Linked DNA regions of Homo sapiens: regions 2 and 3 are each reported to be linked to region 1. The links are microRNA targets in miRTarBase. Many come from high-throughput screens and were not tested one by one. Region 1 holds a microRNA gene; each other region holds the end of a gene's coding sequence.
What was found. Region 1 holds the annotated microRNA hsa-miR-877-3p (UCCUCUUCUCCCUCCUCCCAG, at 4,925-4,945, opposite strand). A microRNA usually pairs through its seed, bases 2 to 8, with sites in the 3' UTR of a target mRNA and lowers its output. Matches are read on the target gene's strand: a 7mer-m8 pairs with bases 2 to 8, a 7mer-A1 pairs with bases 2 to 7 and ends in A, and an 8mer does both.

Region 2: the mRNA of BNIP2 is a reported target of hsa-miR-877-3p. The part of its 3' UTR that is shown has no 7-base or 8-base seed match.
Region 3: miRTarBase lists EIF1AD as a target of hsa-miR-877-3p. The part of its 3' UTR that is shown has no 7-base or 8-base seed match.

Annotation. Positions count from the first base shown.
Region 1 is chr6:30,582,221-30,589,341 of GRCh38, reverse strand. It overlaps MIR877 (microRNA 877), which reads right to left and starts at 5,010; the gene lies at 4,925-5,010. ABCF1 (ATP binding cassette subfamily F member 1) reads right to left here. Exons shown (of 25, transcript NM_001025091.2): 9 at 6,835-6,948; 10 at 6,154-6,276; 11 at 5,634-5,734; 12 at 5,452-5,537; 13 at 5,011-5,150; 14 at 4,776-4,924; 15 at 3,999-4,082; 16 at 3,660-3,784; 17 at 3,351-3,463; 18 at 3,037-3,208; 19 at 2,794-2,868; 20 at 2,631-2,701.
Region 2 is chr15:59,658,137-59,665,257 of GRCh38, reverse strand. BNIP2 (BCL2 interacting protein 2) reads left to right here. Exons shown (of 10, transcript NM_004330.4): 10 at 1,138-6,112. The coding sequence ends at 1,189. Among named protein-coding and RNA genes, the nearest start is that of GTF2A2, 4.2 kb to the right of the region's middle.
Region 3 is chr11:65,992,277-65,999,397 of GRCh38, forward strand. EIF1AD (eukaryotic translation initiation factor 1A domain containing) reads right to left here. Exons shown (of 6, transcript NM_001242481.2): 5 at 7,074-7,121; 6 at 4,269-6,467. The coding sequence ends at 6,323. Among named protein-coding and RNA genes, the nearest start is that of EIF1AD, 6.3 kb to the right of the region's middle.

The DNA of each region.
Region 1 (7,121 bases):
GGGCCAGGGACAAGTATGCATAAGAAAAGGAATAGGGGCTGGGCACGGTGGCTCATGCCTGTAATCTCAGCACTTTGGGAGGCCAAGGAAGGCAGGTCAGGAGGCACTTAAGGTCAGGAGTTTGAGACCAGGCTGGCCAACATTGTGAAACCCTGTCTCTACTAAAAATACAATAATTAGCTGGGCATAGTGGGACATGCCTATAATCCCAGCTACTCAGGAGGCTGAGGCACAAGAATGGTTTTAACCCAGGAGGTGGAAGTTGCTGAGATCGCACCACTGCACTCCACCCTCGGGGACAGGGGAAGACTTTGTCTCAAAAAAGAAAAGGAACAGGGATGTTCCCCTAATATGACAAAGGCATGGTGAGCAAAGTAAAAGAGTTAAGGGACAAAAGGGGAGTTAAGCAAAATGGAGGACAAGAGGGACAAGCAGGAGGGACTAACCACAGCCAAAGAACACCTGCTCTCCATACAGCGAGACTCACGAATGGTACATCGTAAGGGCCTCATGTGGCAAGTTTAGTGTTTTGGGGAGAATCTAATAATACCTTTCTAAAGATCTAATCTCTGGATATGAGAAAATGGCCTCTCAACACTGCTAGAGAGAGCAGAAATGGCTACAAACTTTCTAACACACTAGATGGCAATATATTACAAAAGTTCAAATAAAATGGTAGAGTTTGCCGGGCGTGGTGGCTCACACCTGTAATCCCAGCACTCTGGGAGGCCGACGCAGGCAGATCATGAGGTCAGGAGATCAAGACCATCCTGGCTAACACGGTGAAACCATCTCTACTAAAAATACAAAAAATTAGCTGGGCGTGGTAGCACGCGCCTGTTGTCCCAGCTACTCGGGAGGCTAAGGCAGGAGAATCGCGTGAACCCAGGAGACGGAGGTTGCAGTGAGCCAAGACTGTGCCACTGCACTCCAGCCTGGGTGACAGAGTGAGACTCTGTCTCAAAAAAAAAAGGTAGACTCATATGAAATAAGTAATTGCATGGAAAAATGCTTGATATATTTGGAAAAATCTAGCTACACAACAACTCATATGACAGCCCATTTTTGTTAAAAATTATATGCACATTTGCAAAGAAAAAAGGAGAAAGATATCCACTAAAACATTAATACTGGTTATCTCAGCTGGGAGCGGTGGCTCACGCCTGTAATCCCAGCACTTTGGGAGGCTGAGGCGGGCGGATCACAAGGTCAGGAGTTCGAGACCAGCCTGACCAACATGGTGAAACCCTGTCTCTACTAAAAATACAAAAAGTAGCTGGGCATGGTGGGGCGTACCTATAATCCCAGCTATTCAGGAGGCTGAGGCAGGAGAATATCTTGAACCTGGGAGGTGGAGGTTGCAGTGGGCCAAGATCGCACCACTGCACTCCAGGCTGGGCGACAGTGAGACTCCGTCTCAAAACAAAATAACAAAAAAAAAAAACTGGTTATCTCCAGATTTTTCTCTTGACTTAAGCATTTTTTTTTTTTTTTTGACAGAGCCTCACTCTGTCACTTAGACTGGAGTGCAGTGGCACGACCTCGGCTAACTGGAACCTCTGCCCCCTGGACTCAAGCAATTCTCCTACCTCAGCCTCCCGAGTAGCTGGGACTACAGTCGTGCACCAACATACCCAGCTAATTTTTGTATTTTTAGTAGAGATGGGATTTCACCATGTTGCTCAGGCTGGTCTGTTTTTTTTTTTTAGACGGAGTTTTGCTCTTGTTGCCCAGGCTGGAGTGCAATAGCGCAATCTCAGCTCACTGCAACCTCTGCCTCCTGGGTTCAAGTGATTCTCCTGCCTCAGCCTCCCAAAATAGCTGGGATTACAGGCATGTGCAACCACGTCTGGCTAATTTTGTATTTTTAGTAGAGATGGGGTTTCTTCATGTTGGTCTCAAACTCCTGACCTCAGGTGATCTCCCACCTCGGCTTCCCAAAGTGTTGGGATTACAGGTGTGAGCCACCACACTGGGCTCAGGCTGGTTTTTAACTCCTAAGCTCAAGTGATCTGCCTGCCTCAGCCTCCCCCAAAGAGTTGGGATTATAGGCGTGGGCCACCACGCCAGGCCAATTTTTTTTTTTTTTTTTGAGATGGAGTCTCGCTCTGTTGCCCAGGCTGGAGTGCAATGGTGCAATCTCAGCTCACTGCAACCCCCGCCTCCCAGGTTCCAGCAATTCTGCCTCAGCCTCCTGAGTAGCTAGGATATAGGTGCGCGCCACCGCACACGGCTAATTTTTGTATTTTTAGTAGAGGCGGGGTTCACTATGTTGGCTAGGCTGGTCTGGAACTCTTGACCTTAGGTGATCCCTGCTGGGATTATAGGAGTGAGCTACTGTGCCTGGCCCGTTTATGCAATTTTTAATCGTTCTATAAAAGACATATATTTCTTGTATAACCAAAACACGTGGGTGTGCCCCCTAGTTCTATCTTAATTCTCTTAGCTCTCCCCCCTGAACTGATCTAAGCTCTTTCCTCCTCTACTGCCCCTCTTAGGGAAATGAATCATCTATCATGAGTTCTGTATTTAACTCTACATTCTCGAGAGGCTCCCTGATTCCAGCTTCTGGCAAAAGCAGCTGTGTCTTCACATTTCTCATGCTCTCCCTCCTTGGCTCCAGGACTCACCGGTGTCAGCTTGCCAGTCAGCAGCAGGAGTAGCGTACTCTTCCCCACACCATTAGGGCCCACAATGCAAACTGCAAGATGGAAGACAGGTGGTCAAAGAGGTCCCCAGAGACTCTCCCTGTGGCTCCTGCTACACATCCCTGAGGCAACCCCGCCAACTCACTCCTTGAATCCATGTCGATGCCAAAATCCAAGTTCTTAAAGAGTGGTTTCTGTCCCTGGTAGCCGAATGTCACACCTGAAAGCCACGAAAAGAAGCAATTTATATTCTTTTCAGTCCCTGCAAAGTCCCTCTCATGTGCTGGCCTTGGAGAACAGGAGCAATCTCAGCCTTGGTGGAGAATTTAGGGTGCACATACATGCTTCCGGTGCTTCCTGTGGAGCAGCAGAGGCCCGCGGCACTCACCATGCAGACCCAGCACTGGAGGGCTGAGTGGTGGGGGGTCTGGAAAAGTGAAGCGCACAGTGTACTCCTTAGGGCGCTTCAGGAGCTCAGGGGCCTCCTGGGATTCCTCATCTTGGTTTTTCCGTCGGCATTTCTGCTGCTTCCGAGTCAGGGCTTCCTTCGTTTGTTTTTCCTGGAGAGGAAGAGGAAAAAAGAGAAACCTGAGCCCTGCGCGGCAGTCCTTGAAATGTAGGCCAGCGTTCCAGAGTCTCCTTCTTCCTCCACTGCCAGGAGAGAACAGTGGCCCCCAGCCCAGAAGTCCCTCAGGTGCTCACCGCCTGCTTGGTGGACTTCCCGCCTGCCTTCAGCTCCTTCAGCTTTTTCTCTTGCTTCTCATACTGTTTCAGCAGTTCTTTCTGCTTCTGCTGGTACATCTTTTTGAAGGTCACTGGGGCAGAAGAGGGGACCAGGCATCAGTGGTTGCTCCTCTTCCCAGCAAAGGGACAACCAGGGACTGGTGGTGATGGGGTAGGCATCACTGTCTGGAATTCTGACAGGATTCAGTTTATCTAAATAGGCCCTCCCACTCAGGCCTCTTTTCGAGGTTCTATCTCTTCCCTGCATCCACACACAATCCTACTTACTGTAATTGCCCCTATAGTAGTGGAGCCGCTGGGCATCGAGGTGGATGATATCAGTGCAGACATCATCCAAGAAGCCCTGGTCATGGGAGACGATCAGCAAGGTCTTCCGCCAGCCCTGGAGGTAGCTGGGTTTCAGAGAACAGGGTGTAAGTGTCACAGTGGTCAAGTGAGAGAGAATTCAGAGGAAGCAGGCAGACAACGGGGGCTGGGAGGGAAAGGGGGGTCTGAATAGAGCTCCACTCACAGGCACAGTGGAGAAGGGCTAAAGGAAAACAGGGCAGGGAGGGAAGGGGAAGAAAGTGCAGAATGGGAACCAATGATGCAAAGGCCGTAACGCACTTATTAAGCCAGATGACAGCGTTGAGGTCCAGGTGGTTGGTGGGCTCATCCAGCATCAGCAGTGTGGGCTCCATGAACAGTGCCCTAGAGGGTGGGTAGCAGAGGGCAGGGTCAGGGAGAGAAAGATCCTTGCTCAGACAACCCCAGAGAAAACTCGGAGATAGAGCCTGAGACCATGAACACTCCTTCCCAAGCTCTCCTCAGAGAAGTTCTCGGGCAGGATACGGTTTAATTTTTTTGAGACAGGGTCTCGCCCTGTTGCCCAGGCTGTCGTGCAGTGGCACAATAAGGGCTCACTGTAGTCTAAATCTCCCAGGTCTAAGTGATACTTCTACTTCAGCCTCCAGAGTAGCTGTGACCACAGCGTGCGCCACCATATCCAGCTGATCTTTAAATTTTTTGTAGAGACAGGGTCTCCCTATGTTGCCCAGGCTAGGATATGTTTTCTTCCCCCTTTTGTGAAGATAGAGTCTCACTATATTGCCCAGGCTGGTCTCAAACTCCTGGGTTGAAGATAATCCTCCTGCCTCTGCCTTCCAAAGTGCTGGGATTACAGGCGTGACCCATTGCACCCAGCTGCAGGGTATGTTGATGAGAACTCACCACCAAGTAGGGAGATAAATAGAGAAAGACCCTAAGTTCTCACAACACAGATAGTAAGGAGGGAGAGGTAAGCCTTGAGCCTCCCTATTGGCCTTGGAAGAATGAGAAGGGAAAGAGGAAAAGGGCCCCGGTGGTCTGAGGCTGGAAGGGAGGGCAGTGAGGTGAATGGCCCACCTGGCCAGGGAGACACGCATGCGCCAGCCCCCTGAGAACTTCTGTGTGGGTCGATTCTGCATTTCAGGGTCAAAGCCCAGGCCAGCCAGGATCCGCCGTGCTTTGGCCTCTGCAGCTGCCGCCCCAGTGGCCCGCAATTCCTCATACACCTGGGAGGAGGGAGAAGAGGACACACGTCTGAGGGTCCCAGGAACCCCCAAGTCTTTGCCCGTGTCCCCTGCGCCATCTCCTCTACCTTCTCTAGCCTCTCAGCAGCTGTGTCATCCCCTTGTTCCAGCTGTCCCTGAAGCCGCCGCTCCTCTTCCAGCAGCTTCAATCGCTTGGTGTCAGCTCGAAGAACAGCCTGGACTGCTGGTGTCTCATCTGCTACCACCTCTGGGAGGCAGAGGGAGAACAGTCAGGCAGCCTCAAGAGCCAAGAGTCTCATCTTTCTTTCCCTTCAATTACATTTCTGTTTTGCCTGACCCTGCCCAGCTCTTTGTACTTGTTCCAAATAAAACACTCTCAAGTTCCTCATTGACCCTCCCCTCCTTTCCTTAGCATCCCTTTCCCGGTCTCCAGTCTCCCTCCACATCCCTTCCAACTCCATAGCCACAATTTCTTCTATTCTTGGCTGGCTGGCTTTTCTACCCAACTGCCCACCCCACCAAGCCCCTTTTCTCCCCAGTGGTCTCACCCTGCTCACACAGCAACACATCAATGTTGGGAGGGATGCTCAGGGCTCGGTTGGCAATGTGCTTGAGGAGTGTGGTCTTGCCCTTGCTGGGGAATAAAAGCTATTAGGACCTGGCCACCACTGAGAAATCTCTTCTTTTCCCTCCAGGCCCTTTTTTGCCTCCAGCTCCCTCCTCTTCTCACCCATTGGGTCCTACCAGCCCGTAGCGGCGGCCGGCTACAATGTACAGGTCTGCATTGACGAACAGCTCCTTGCCATGAGCGGAGATGCTGAACTTCTCCAGCTGCAGCCATCAGGAAAGAGGTGGCAGAGGGAAGGGATGATCACATGAAAATTCTCCCTTTGGGACAGGAGCGGCCACTTTCTCCCTGCAGGGAAGCCTCTGACAAACCGCTACCTCCAGCATAATCCCCTTCCTCTCCCCACAGCCGGTCCCCGCCCTGTTCGCTGCCTGTAATGGGAGCCCCATGCATCCTCAGCTAGTCTAGTCTGTCCCACACTATTTTCTGCCAAGGGTGGACCCCACTTCTACTGGTTTTTCTATCTTCTTGCTCAAGTTGGCAGAACCTAAGGTGTGGAAAATGCCTCCAATCTTTCTTCCCACTGAACTAACCCATTCACACACCACAGCCACTCAGGGAAGATGAGAGAACTGGCTCTTCCCTAGGTAAGTGGACTGGAAGGGGCCCCTTGAGACCTTACCTTGATGTCAGATGCATTTTCTAACATGGCTTGGCGGGAGGACATCTCCGCCTGGGACACGGAGAAGTCATTTTCAGCTGCATTGGCTGCTTTTAATGAAGCCACTTGGCGCTCATACTCCATCTGAGAAGGTAGGAAAAACTACATTTGAAGCCACAGTCTACCAGTTTCCCATCACCATGAAACAGCCCATGCTGGCTGGGCATGCTGGCTCACGCCTGTAATCCCAGCACTCTGGGAGGCTGAGGTAGGTGGATCTCTTGAGCTCAGGAGTTTGAGACCAGCCTGGCCAACATGCTAAAATACTGTCTCTACAAAAAATACAAAAATTAGCCAGGCATGGTGGTGCCACCCATAGTCTCAGCTATTCGGGAGGCTGAGGTGGGAGGATCACTTGAGCCTGGTAGGTTGAGGCTGCAGTGAACAGAGATCACGTCATTGCACTCCAGCCTGAGTAACAGTGTGAGACCCTGTCTCAAAAAATAAACAAAAAACCCCAAAGTGAAACAGCCCATGTCATCAGACATTGAGATAAGGTTCACAGAACACAATTATTTTCTTACTCCGATTGTTTTACTTGGAGTAGCCCCCAAACCTTTCCTTCGTGTCCCCAATCGCATGTCCCCTAGTTGAAGTATTTAAAAATCCCCTACTTTTGACCGCTAAGAACCAAGGTCTTACCTGTTTTTTCAGCTTTTTCTTCTCCTTTTTGCTAAGATGAGCATAGGGATCATCTGCCTTAGACTCTCCTCCTTCCTCCTCCTCTTCTTCCCCTTCTCCTTCTTCCTCTGAACCCTGTGAGAACCCGGGGATGGTCAAAACTAGGGACTCCTGGCTGGGCGCGGTGGCTCACGCCTGTAATCCCAGCACTTTGGGAAGCCAAAGCGGGCAGATCCCAAGGTCAGGAGATCAAGACCATCCTGGCTAACATGGTGAAACCCCATCTCTACTAAAAATACAAAAAATTA
Region 2 (7,121 bases), not on the chromosome of region 1:
GAGTCTCACTCTGTCACCCAGTCTGGAGTGCAATGGCATGGTCTCAGCTCACTGCAAGCTCTGCCTCCTGGGTTCAAGCGGTTCTCCTACCTCAGCCTCCCAAGTAGCTGGGACTACAGACGCGTACCACCACACCTGGCTAATTTTTGTATTTTTAGTAGAGATGGGGTTTCACTGTGTTGGCCAGGCTGGTCTCGAACTCCTGACCTCGTGATCCACCCGCCTAGGCCTCCCAAAGTGCTGGGATTACAGGCGTGAGCCACGGCATCCGGCCTTGAATGTTAAATTCTTAAGGCTTCTTACTGTCAAAACAAATTTAAGGCATTCACAAACTGTGTACCAATAAGTTTTGGAGAATAATTATGGGTTCTATAAGGATGCATTTTTTATCACTGAATTTTAAAATATTGATTGATAATTGGTGGCCTTCATGGCATTTTCATATTTTAGTTAACAGAATCATTTTTGAGGGAGTTGTTTTTCCTGCCATTTTCGTACCACCTGGATCCCTACCACAGCCAAGTTACAGGTCAAGATTTTAATATGCCATGTAATTTGAACTTTTAAGAAAGTTTATGGCTGGGCACGGTGGCTCACGCCTGTAATCCCAGCACTTTGGGAGGCTGAGGCAGGCAGATCACGAGGTCAGGAGATCGAGACCATCCTGGCTAACATGGTGAAACCCCACCTCTACTAAAAATACGAAAAATTAGCCGGGCATGGTGGCGGGCGCCTGTAGTCCCAGCAACTCGGGAGGCTGAGGCAGGACAATGGTGTGAACCCAGGAGGCGGAGATTGCAGCGAGCTGAGATTGTGCCACTGCACTCCAGCCTGGGTGACAGAGCAAGACTCCGTCTCAAAAATAAGAAAAAAAAAAAGTTTATATGCATTTGTATGTAAAGTATTTTATAATCTTTAAAGAAACAACGGTCACATTTCTTGCCAGTGTCCTCCTGCCTTTAAAAATTCTCTTTTCTGGTTGGGGAAATGATGTTTGGTAACTGTTTTTACTATGTCTGCTTCTTTGCAAAGCTTTGTCTTTAACAGAGTAATATTCTATGCTAAAATAGTCATTATTTTTAGAAAGAAAATTGTTCAGTTGCTGGTTTCTTATTTTATATATTCTTCATTAAACAGAGTTGATCAAGAACTTAATGGAAAACAAGATGAACCGAAAAATGAACAGTAAGTTTGGCATCTAGTCCAAACAAGACTGAAGAATGTGCTGATGGAGCAGTGCTGTTTCTGCATTCATAATGCATTTATTGGCCCATATTTTTATGTAACCTGTTACAAAATAGACTTGACTTTTTCATAATGGACTTTTGTATTATACAAGGGACTGTTCACTGCTGTACTGGTTTGCAAATTTCTTGAATTTAGCTCTTTAATAGCTAACTGTATTATTATCGTTTTATATTTTATATTGCTAAATAGAGAACCACACTTTATATAAAGTAGTTTTTGCATTTGTTTATTGAATGATGCATCTTCTTCGGTGAAATATTTATATGCATAAATGGCAAAGGAAAGAAATAATATATATTTTTATGTCATTGAGCAATATTTTTTAATGTGTACCTGTCTTATGGAAGAAATATGCAGGTATATAAGACCACGATTTTCTAAAGTGCATATTAGAATTTTTGTTTTTGTAAATGGTTAAATACATTTCCTGGGTAACTTAGGAAATTAAGTTTTTCATAAGGCAACAGATGGTTAAACTGATTGTCATGAATACCCAAAGATCATGTATATAATCGAAGTGTATTAGTACCATCCCAAGGTTTTTTTCTCATTTAACATATTTGTTTCATAATTCAGCAAGTACAGATGCAAGCGCATTGCACACTTTTTCCTTTCTAAACTTAAAGACAAGTCAAAAAGCCATTCTTAGAACTAGAGGATTTAAGAGGGTAGGAATTAGGGTTTGTATATATGTATATATGGGACATTTTATCTTCTGGCCCAAAGTCAGAACTTTATAAAAATCTTGAGTTTGTTCACTAATGTGAAATAAGCTATGTGTCCAGGGTATTGCTCCCCTGAGTGTATATGAGTGCTGAGTAGTATTGCAGAGAATGTGATGAGTTATTCACTGTCACAACTTTTTCTATAGAAAACAGGGGCTGCTTTTTAAACTCTCACTATGGGCACTTTACCAAAATACTTCCATATCAATTATTTGAACTCGGTAGTTGTTTGACCTAGTTAGATGTGGTGTTTATTCAAGTTTGTATGAAATCATGTTTGACAATACTGTAAATTAGGTTAATTTTGTAAGTCTTAGCATCATCATATTGTGCTGTTTTGGATAACACGTTTGTTACAAGCATTTAAACTGTTTCATTTGGTAGTACCTTTACATTGAAATAAATTGTGTTTGTGCCTCCAAACAAAAAGTTTAATTACCGACAAAATTATTTCTAAAACAACAGATTGATCTGATATTGTGTCATATACTTGAAAGGCTCATACACAGCTGGTAAGCATAATACCTTCCAAATTTGAAGGTCATGGCTACTCTTCAACCCTTCCTGTAAGGTATTTTACAAAACAGTGGCCTAGAGTAGCAAAATTGAAGTGGATGTGAGCTAACCTTTCAAGATTTAGTCTATCCTAGATTGAACACACATGTGGCTGTGACCATTCTCATGTACTTACAAACCTTCTGTTACAAAAGGGAACTTTCCTATATTTTTTGTCCTCCTCAGTCCTAAACTTGGCATGCTAACTTAAAACCAGTTATAGGAGAGAGATGCTGGAGGATTCCCAGGATGAAACATTCCTCAGCAGCCTCCTGACTTAACTCAGATCCAGCAGCTCTTGGCAGATCCTGAACTAATGTCATTACAGTGAATTGAGCCAAAACGATTATTGCTTGCTCACATTTTAGGAACACTTGTTGTTGAAGAAGCAAACTAACAATAACAAGTTAGGCATTCCTTCTGAATTTACCATATAAGGATTATGTATAAACAATTATATTGAATTTGTCATTAGATTCTATATTTGTAGACGATTTAACGTAGTCTTTCATCTGTACATCTTTATCTTGCTCAAAATGGGCTGAGGTTTTTAATAGGTGGTTTTCTACCACATTAAGTACTTGGTTCTTCAGTTTAAAAAATATGAAGAATAACTTCAACTCTTTTTTGCATTATTTTGATTTTTGATTTTGCAGTCATTGCTCCTAACTGTAGATACATGTTGCAAAAGTGATGTTTTTCTGAATTTTTTTTAAAAGTAGAAGACTATTCTGTTAAACATTAAAATTCAGAGACAACAGTGATAACACCTGGGATATAATGAAAATGAGGTGCTGTGAATCAGTAAACTAAAGGGATACCTGCTTTAACCTGCACCTTAATGGAATCTGGTATAGAGATGTACCCACAATAAATGTTTTATAAGATTTAAGATCATAATAGTAGGTTAGAGGAAGAGCATTTATTAAGTCTGTTGTTTCTAATCTATAGCTAAGTTAACATTTCCCATATTATTCCATTTTAATTTCCCATTACTGACCAAGGTGAAAGTATATGTGATTGTACTTTTATCTTTCTGTTGGGATCATGGATCTAATTTAACTGGCTTAATTTGATGCTTCTGTCACTAGGCTCTAAGTGCCCCTTTTTTAGTCAGAAGTTTTTCATGTGAAATAATTTGATTCTGTGTTCTGCTTGATCATACTCCTAAGCAAGCACCAAGGGAAGACGTTCTATTCACCCCACAATTTAAGCTTAACAATCTTTAACTCAGAGGGAGATATGAAGAAATATGATTCTAAGTAGGGTCTAGCAGAGGCATTGGAAAGTGATAAAAGTAGGAAGTAAGAGAAAGCAAACCTTTATAAAGAGATAAAGACATAGTTGTTACCTAAGATGCCACTGTATGTGTGCCCTCTCTTTTTTTTTTTTTTTTTTTGGAGACAGAGACTCACTCTGTCACCCATTCTGGAGTGCAGTGGCGCAATCCTGGCTCACTGCAACCTCTGCCTCCCGGGTTCAAGCATTTCTCCTGCCTCAGCCTCCTGAGTAGCTGGGATTACAGGCACACGCCACAATGCCCGGCTAATTTTTGTATTTTTAGTAGAGACGGGGTTTCGCCATGCTAGGCTGGTCTCGAACTCCTGACCTCATGATCTGCCTGTCTCAGCCTCCCAAATGCTTGGATTACAGGCTTGAGCCACCACGCCCGGCCATGTGTGTCCTTTTAAGGGAAGTACCATATGTGACTGCTGATGGTAACATTTCTTGTATGCAGCAGGAAAACCTGCAGGCTATACGCAAGGTATGTGAATAAAGACTGTGGATTGAAGGGGGAAAAGTTGATAATACATACCCATGATAAGAATTCATATTTTCTCTTTCTTTGTCTCTTCATACAGAAGCAAGTTCGAGCAGAGAAGGTTAGCAGTTACAGCACTTAAAAGTTTAGGATTGAGGGTTTTTGGTTGGTTTTTTTGTTTTTTCATATTTCACTGTTGCTGAACATTGATTTAGTCTTCCAAAATGGACATCACTAGTAAGTGCACTGAATACTGAAATATGCTGATTGGCAAGCATATATCTGTAGCTAGAATTTTTTTAACCGTAATTCCAGAATTTAAAAAGGTAAGAGATCTGCTTTTTGATAGAGGCCTTTTAAAAAGACTATATAACATTTCTATTTGGCTGTTTATGTGAATGCTCAGGGAATTTGGACATGTGTTTTATACAGAAGTGGCTTTTTATATTTCTTCAAGTGATAAATTAGCATTAGGACATATCAGATAGAACAGGCCAGTTTCCTGATGAGATTGGTAGAGATGTTACGGTAGGTTCATCCTTCCTTTTTCCATGTTATATGTGGAGAAGTGTTAAACTTGCTCAAGCAAATGGGAGTAGGAGATAGGCTGAAAATAGAGATTGCTACACCATTCTATTTTGTTTTCATGCCTGTTTTTTCTCCAATCCTATATGGACATTTGAGAAATGGACCACAAATCTGAGAGGGATAGAGTAAAAAGAGGCATTAATGTATGTACTCACAAGTTAGACCTATTTTGCTGTTAAAATAGGTCTGGTCTTGTTATAGGTCATAGGAATTGTGTAGTTTGAGTTGCTGCGAGAAAGAGTCAAGAACTTAGACTTGAATGGGAAGGCCAACTGGTGAGGGAAGTGGGGTATTATCTACTCAAATGTTCTAAGCTAATACAAAAGAATTACCTGGCAAGCATCCCCCTCTGCCCTTCTTGAAATTCTGAATGAACTTAGAATCAGATCAATGGTGAGACCCAGTTATGTAACTTTCCTTTGAAGTTCTAAAGGATAATTGAAAATAAAGTAGTCTGGCATGTTTAACAGTAAGGAGTGACACTAAAATTTGAATATAACAGTATGTTGCAACTATTTATAATAGACCTATTTATGTTTTGAGAACTAAGTAAAATGCTATGAAAAATTCACATAAAGCACGTAAGCACCAAATGAAAATCATTTCGTGCTTTCAAATTAATGATACTAGGCTTGTAGGATGTCTTAGAATCATGTTTAACAAGAAGTTAAAATATTTGCATTTTGAAATTTTTATGCAGTTTGGCTAAGGAGGAACTTGGAAAATAACATTCATCAGCTTCTACACTGCACTTTTTGTATGTGGACTTTGTAAAGTTTAATGTCCGTTTAACAGTTGCTTGTTTATTTGTGTAAACCTAGCTAGTAAATATTGATGATGTTCAGGGCCACTGACTTGCACAGCCCTTGGAGCACTATTCACACAGAACACAATTCAGAGTTTGTTAAGACATTAACACACTTTGATATCTATTCCAAAAATACTTTTGTTACCACAGGTTCATTGCTGTCATTTAGACAAAATTAATGTACTGTGATATTTTCCTACTCTTAAGATGATGTTGCCCAGCCGAGTACTGTCAGAAATTCAGTTCTGATGTCTGTGTGTGCAAGATATTAATGTGGTCCCTGTAAGAAATACCAGAGTTGGTCATGATTTACTAAGGAGATGTAATATTTTCTTTGACCTGTTAGGAATATAACTTGTGTCTTGATTTGTTGCACATCATATTTTTTGCAACATTAATGAATTTAAATAAATTAATTGGAACGTTCGTCTTTGTCTTTTTATCACATTTTTCTTTCATTATGCTACTAAATTTTTGCTTTGAATTATCCTATAAACCTCTTAAATAATTTCAGACCTTTACACTTGTTTCCCTTTCTATAGTCTAAGTGCTTCTATTCTTTGGGGATTAGAGAGTTCAGCCTGCTTTATTTTAACATCAAAACAATAATGAAACTTTGTGTTTCATAGTTGAGATTTTTTTTTAATTAATGGGGAATCCAAGGATGAAACCATGAGTGGCTTAAAATGAAAACATGGCTTTTTTTTTTTTTTTTTTTTTTTGAGACAGTTTCGCTCTTGTTGCCCAGGCTGGAGTGCAATGGCGCCATCTTGGCTCACCGCAACCTCCGCCTCCCAGGTTCAAGCAATTCTCCTGCCTCCGCCTCCCGAGTAGCTGGGATTACAGGCATGCACCAACACGCCCAGCGAAATTTTTTTTGTATTTTAGTAGAGACGGGGTTTCTCCACGTTGAGGCTGGTCTCGAATTCCTGACCTCAGGTGATTCGCTCACCTCGGCCTCCCAAAGTGCTGGGATTACAGGCATGAGCCACCGCCCCTGGCCGAAAACATGGCTTAAATAAGAAGAACTTGTTTAGTTCATAGACCTGCTCAGAGGTTCCAGCTGATACCACTTGGTGTTTTTTGTGGTTTTGTTGTTGTTGTTTTGCACATACTCTTTAATCACTATTCAGCTATTTTGTAGGATAAACTGCTCTACACATGACTGCTGGGTTTAAGCCAGTTAGTGTACCATGCACCCTGACACCTAAAACAATTTGTGATTTTGCAAACTTGAAATTTATAGTGAAGTATTTATCTTGCATATTAGATGCAAATTTTAAATATAACTTCTCCCAAATTAAAGTTCTTCATGAACTGGTCACAAACTAAAAACTTTGCCTGCAGCCCTGTTTCGAGGGGTAAAGAAGATACCCTGCTTACCCTGCTATAATTTTTTTTTTTTTTTTTTTTTTTGAGACGGAGTTTCGCTCTT
Region 3 (7,121 bases), not on the chromosome of region 1:
ATCTGTGCTCCCTGGCACACACACAGGGGTGGCTGGGTGGCAAGGGGGGAAAGCGCACTGGGCCACACGGGGAAGCCCTGGTGGAAATGACCTGGCTGTAGAGGTTAGTCCTGAAGTGACAGAGGTACAGATTCTGAAGGGCCACAAAGTCTCAAGCATAACTGCAAGAGAAGCCAGTAAGTACTATTAGGCAGCCAGTCACAGGGACTGGCCATGACATCGGGACAAGGGGCTCTTACATCAGATCTCAGCTCACTCAGGGAGATCTATTCATACATGGTTGGATCCCACCATTCAGTTGGAAGAACAGAGGTGGAATCCAGCTTCAGAGAATGACATAGGAAAGTAGCATGCAGAATACAAGGACCCTACCTCCATCAGTACCCTTAGCTACAGCCCACAGAAGCTGAATGGCTGGTAAGAGATGAAGAAGTGGAAACGAAAAGGTTTTAGGGGGAAAAAAAGATGTTACTAGGTGGATCACAGTATCACTGAGAGAATGGAGAAGAACATAAGACCAAGTTTACAGATAAAACGCCAAAACACACACACACAAAGTGGGGAACAGTCAAAGGACTATTTAGAAGAAAACATATAGCCCTGAATATATTAGAAAACAAATTGAAATTAAATTAGCTAAGCACACATCTCAAGAACCCAGAATGAGCAAATAAACCCAAAGAAACGAAGGAAAAGTCCAGTAAGGAAGACCTCTTGCAAAGCTAGCCAAATAAAATACACAAAATATAAACATATTTTGTTGATTTCACCTGCCCTCACCCCTTGCCCCACTTTTTCTGGTAATAGAACCTCTCTATTCCATGGGAAACATATAAAAATTACTTGTGGCTCATCCTGCCCCACCCCAGTCCTCCACACCCTCCCACCCCCCGGCCCTGGCCACAGTGACTGCTCAAGCACAGCAAGTGACCTGAGGAAGATCAATCGCCCTTCACGGAAATACAGGGATCCTCAAGAGCCCCAAGGGGCTCTGTCTACAAGGACTGTGTATAAACTTGAGCGTCCTGGCTGGGCGCAGTGGCTCATGCCTGTAATCCCAGCACTCTGGGAGGCCGACGCAGGCGGATCACGAGGTCAGGAGATCGAGACCATCCTGGCTAACACGGTGAAACCCTGTCTCTACTAAAAATACAAAAAATTAGCCGGGCGTGGTGGCGGGCGCCTGTAGTCCCAGCTACTCAGGAGGCTGAGGCAAGAGAATGGCGTGAACCCCGGGGGGCGGAGCCTGCAGTGAGCCGAGATCGCGCCATTGCACTCCAGCCTGGGCAACAGCGAGACTCCGTCTCAAAAAAAAAAAAAAAAAAAAAACTTGAGCTTTCTACAGAAAACATCTGTAGGAGGGAAAGAAATTAATCAGCCGGGAGCAGAGATGACAGAGATAAATGAGAGAGCCTGAGGAATTCATGCTGCTGGCATTGGTTCATCCCTGCCCGATGCGCACCACTCAGAGACCTCAGGTCAATGAGCCTTGCTTACTTCTCCTAATTTGAGTTCAATTTTGTCATTTATAAGAAAGTCCCGCATACGCCAGGATGGTGGCTCTCACCTGTAATCCCAGTACTTTGAGAGGCCAGGGCAGGAGCATCACTTGAGCCTGGGAGTTCGAGACTAGCCTGGGCAACATAGGGAGAGCCTGTCTCTACTAAAAATAAAAAAAATTAGCCAGGTGTGGTGGCGCGCACATGTGGTTCCAGCTACTCAGGAGGCTGAGGTGGGAGAATCACTTGGGCCTGGGAGGTCAAGGCTGCAGTGGCGCCATGATGGCCTGGGCAACAGAGTGAGAGGCTGTCTCAAAAAAAAAAAAAAAATTACTGGGTGCAGTGGCTCACCCTTGTAATCCCAGCACTTTGTGAGGCTGAGGGGGGCCAATCACCTGAGGTCAGGACTTTGAGACCAGCCTGGTCAACATGGCAAAACCCCATCTCTACTAAAAATACAAAAATTAGCTGGGTGTGGTGGCGGGTGCCTGTAATTCCAGCTACTTGGGAGGCTGAGGCAGGAGAATCACTTGAACCCGGGAGGTGGAGGTTACAGTGAGCCGATACTGCACCACTGCACTCAAGCCTGGGCGACACAGTGAAACTCTGCCTCAAAAACAAAACAAAAACAAACAAACAAAAAAAGAAAGTTCCAAATAATACAAATATTATGCATGAACTTTTGCCCAAAAAGCTTAAATATATATGAAATATGATCCTGGAATGATACAAATGATCAAAATTGACTCAAGGATAGAAAACTTTAGACAGAACACAACTGAATAAACTAAAAGGCAGTGAAAGATCCACCCCTGAAAAAGGTACCCAGCACAGATGTTTTTGTAAACAAGTTCACAACGTTGAAGAAACAAATGCCTGGCCTATAAAGTATTCAAGCCTGAAGAAAAAGACGTCTCCAAACCCATTTGCAAGGCTAGCATAAAGCTAATCTCGAAATAGAACAGGAAGGTCATTTTTTAAAAAGAGGGAGGGGATTGGCCCAGGGAGAGAGATAAAACTCCTAAGTAAATACATAATATACTGTAAAACTAAGCAAGGTTTATATCAGAAAGTAAGGTGTGTCCAACATTAGGAAACCTATTACTGTAACTCAGTACAATCATACAATAAAATCTTTTGATTTTCTCCATAGATGTCAACATTCATCACTGTTAAACAAAAGCGAAGGAGAAAAAAAAAACAGTAAGATGGAACAAAGAAAACATCTTCAGTCTAATGAAGATCATCTACCGGAAGCCCAGAGCAAGCGTCCTACCTCAGGACGCAACGTGAGAACCATTCCCACTGAGAAAACATCAATCAAGGGTGCCATGCAACCACGGTGGAGGTCCTGGCCTCTGAGATTCACAAGAAATAGACATGAGTGTAAAGGAGGAGATAAAACTGTCATTAGTGGGATACGATTTGGCTATCTATAAAGCCACAAGATCAACTGAAGAACTGCGCATTCGACAAGGTGGGCAACACAAAGATGGACACACAGGTGGATGCCAGGGATGGGGAAAGGTGATTTCCACAGATCCTTCACTACCAGTAACTAGGACTTTCATAAAACTCCTAAGACTAAACCAAATTGGAAGTAAAGGCCCATTTGAAGACCACACCACCTTACCAAAGAACATACCTCATTTCTGGACAGGAAGATGAAAAACTGTTAATTTTTCTACAATATTTATTTAAACAAAACTAAAAATAAACTGTTAAGATACCACTTCTTGGGTGGACATAGTGGCTCACGCCTGGAATCCCAGCCCTCTGGGAGGCTGAGGCGGGAGGATGGCTTGCCCAGGAGTTTGAGACCAGCCTGGGCAACATAATAAGACTGGCTCTACAAAAAAAAAAAAAAAAAAAAATAGAAAAAGAAAAATTAGCCCGATGTGGTGGTGCACACCTGTGGTCCCAGCTACGCAGTAGGCTGAGGTAGAAGGATCGCTTGAGCCCAGGAGGTGGAGGCTGCAATGAGCCATGATTGCATCACTGTGTTCCAGCCTGGGTGACAGGAGTGAAACCCTGTCTCAAAAAAATAAAAGTTGAAACTCCGTCTCTACTAAAAATACAAAAATTAGCCGGGTGTAGTGGCAAGTGTCTGTAGTCCCAGCTATGGAGAGGCTGAGGCAGGAGAATCGCTTGAACCTGGGAGGCGGAGGTTACAGCGAGCTGAGATCACGCCACTGCACTCCAGCCTGGGTGACAAAGCAAGACTGTCTCAAAAAAAAAAAAAATGCAGTATGGGCACACGGATCAATAGGACAGATTAGAAATTCCAAAAAAGATCCATATATATGCAGGAATTTATGTTTTAAAAGATATTTCTGGCCAGGCGTGGTGGCTCATGCCTGTAATCCCAGCACTTTGGGAGACCAAGGCAGGCAGATCACGAGGTCAGGAGACTGAGACCATCCTGGCTAACAACGGTGAAACCCCATCTCTACTAAAAATACAAAAAATTAGCCGGGCGTGGTGGTGGGTGCCTGTAGTCCCAGCTACTCAGGAGGCTGAGGCAGGAGAATGGCGTGAACCCGGGAGGCAGAGCTTGCAGTGAGCCGAGATGGCGCCACTGCACTCCAGCCTGGGCAACAGAGCGAGACTCCGTCTCAAAAAAAAAAAAAAAGAAATATTTCCAGTGAGCAAAGAATGAACCTTTCAAGAAATAGTACAGGGACAAGTGACTTTCCCTTTAGGGAAAGTTTGCTACCTCTCAGAAAAAACAAACTTCAGATGAATTAAAGATAGATACACACACATACATATCTTTAACCCATCTCGTTTATTTTTTGTATATACATCTACATACATTTTATACATTATATTCATATATACATATATACAAATGTATATATGTTTAAAGCCACGCTATAAGAGAAAGTAAATGAGAAACAGACAAATGAAGTGGTAGCTGGAGGACGTGGGAATCAGTACAGGTTTTCACGCCTGTTTCAGAAATGGGAGATTCTACAGCACGCTCGACACTAACACATCACATCCATAACATATCACATCCAATAGACAGGACAGCCAAAAACACAAAACAAAAAAAGAATCAAATACCCACACCCAGACACAATACTCAACAACACAAATACCCGACCAAAGTCTTTAAGAAAGCAAAAGAGGCCGGGCACAGTGGCTCACACCTGTAATCCCAGCACTCTAGGAGGCCAAGGTGGGTGGACCACTTGAGGTCAGGAGTTCGAGACCAGCCTGGCCAACATGGCAAAACCTCGTCTCTACTGAAAATATAAAAATTAGCCAGGCATGGTGGCACACGCCTGTAATCCCAGCAGTTTGGGAGGCTGAGGCAGGAGGCTCATTTAAGGTCAGGAGTTCGAGACCAGCCCGGGCAACATGGCAAAACCCCGTCTCTACTAAAAATACAAAAAGTTAGCCAGGTGTGGTGGTGCACGCCTGTAGTCCAAGCTACTCGGGAGGCTGAGGCAGGAGAGTTACTTGAACCCAGTAGGTGAAGGTTACAGTGAGCCGAGATCACACCACTGCACTCCAGCCTGAGCAACACAGGGAGACACTCTCTCAAAAAAAAAAAAAAAAAAAAAAAGATAGTCTCCAAAACACAAGAGGTAAGGTTTAAGTCCCATTGGCTTACGACAGGAAGATATGTGCACATCTGCAGAGCTGGTAACAGGGAGGCAGGCATTCCCTCTGATGGTTGCTGTTTCTTAATGAGGCATGTGTTGTGGTAACTACCACAAGGGGGAATTGATAGATAAGACAGAAGTTTTGAAACAGACATCCCAGAGTAGATCTGCTGGGCAGTGCTTAGTGTCCATCTGAGGTTTGTAATGATAAACGTAAGGTACAACTGGTGGCCAGGCTGGCTGTTTTCTCACCTAATGATGGTGACTTGGGTTTGGGCACAGAGGTGAATGATTGGGTTTACCCAGGGTTAGGGTTTTACTAGCGGAACAGAATGGAGGGAGACAGAGGGGTGTAGGGTGGACTACGGAATTGATGCTACACAAGAGGGAAGTGAAGGCAGAAGGTTACTCATGAGAATGTCAGGGCTGGTTAGAAGAATGAAGGGTGAGGGTGGAAAAGCAGCCTCTATTTAAAAGGTTATAAGACAATCAATGTCCTCAGGGAATAATCAGGTTTCAAATAAAGTCAGGAGATGGATGGACCATTCAAAACAAAGTTAAGGATAGAGAGATTTGCCAGCCACCTTCTGGAAGTGATAGATGGTGCAGAGTGGGAGAGATGAGGTCGTATGTGGGGATGGACACAGTAGCTGGAGGTGAGCACTCCCGTACACAGGGTGACTAGAAAGGCGGGGAGAACAGCACGAGGCACCATGGGCTCCTGAGCGTCTCTTAGAGGCAGGTGGGTGTTAGGTCCTAGGGCTGTCATCCTGAATGCTTAAATTGGTATGAACTGCAAGCAGGCAAGGAAGCAGGAGTGCTCCCAGCTGTTAAACACATGCAAGAAGGCCCAGAGCACGGCCTGGCACTTTCTAAGTGCCCAATAAGAAAGAACAAACCACCTGGGAAAGACTCCAGCCATTTCCCATTTCCTCCCCATTCAGCCCACCCACCCACAAGGTCTCTAATAAATAGGGAGCAGTTTTTCACTTCATCACAATCTCCCTCCCCCGAGAGAGCCACTCAGACACCAGAACAAGTCACCAACCCACCAGGGGTTTAATTCTCTGAATCAAAAGATCAGTTCAGAGAGGAGCCCTGCTTTGTCCTCATGCAGGGGTGAAGATGTGCAGAGCACCCTGGGAATGTCCAAGCCCAGAAGAGCCAGGGGCCAGTCCCTGAGCAAGTGGAGAATTGGGTCCTGGAGTCTCAGGCTGCCTCCTCCTCTTCACTCTCCTCCTCACTCTCATGATACTGTCTGCGGTTTGTGTTAACAAACAGGTCAGAATCATCTTCTGAGCTGGACTCCTCTCCTGATAACTGTGGCTCAGCTGGGAGTTCTGGTTGAGTTTGTCTGCACGAAGGGAAGAGAGCAGGGTTAGCCCAGCGCCTTCTGGGAAAATAATATCTACAATCAAGGAGTTCCAAAAAAAGGACCATCCGGCCCAGCAGTCAGGGCCCTACAGCACCCTTTAAAGACTCAAACAAGGGACACAGGAGAGCAAACAGTGGGGAAACGTGGCCAAAGAAACAGGCTAAAGACTGACCCCACTCCCCAAACGTGTGCCACAGCCATTTGTTTTAGTTAGAAATAATGATTCTACGACCACCAACTAACACTTAATGGACCCATATCACATAACAGATACTGCACTAAGCAATTTTACAAGCCATCCACTTCTTTAATCCTCACAAAGCTCCCATTTTACATATAAGAAAATAGAGTTTGAAGGAATTAAATAACGTGCTTAAAGTCATTCAGCTTTAAGTGGCAAAGCCAAGATTTTAACCCAGAGCATCTGACCTTCAAACCCCATTCATAACCATGTTATACCACATGCTTAGGAGCTCTCAACAGATACCCTATGTAAGGAGGAAAGAAGGCTCTATTTTTCCCTCAAGGCACCAAAGCATGAACCCCTTATTTTCCATGTACCCCACCCCAAGGCTTGTTCCTCACCTGTTCCTGTTGTTGTGTTTCTCAGCCACTTCAGAGAAGGCCTCAGGC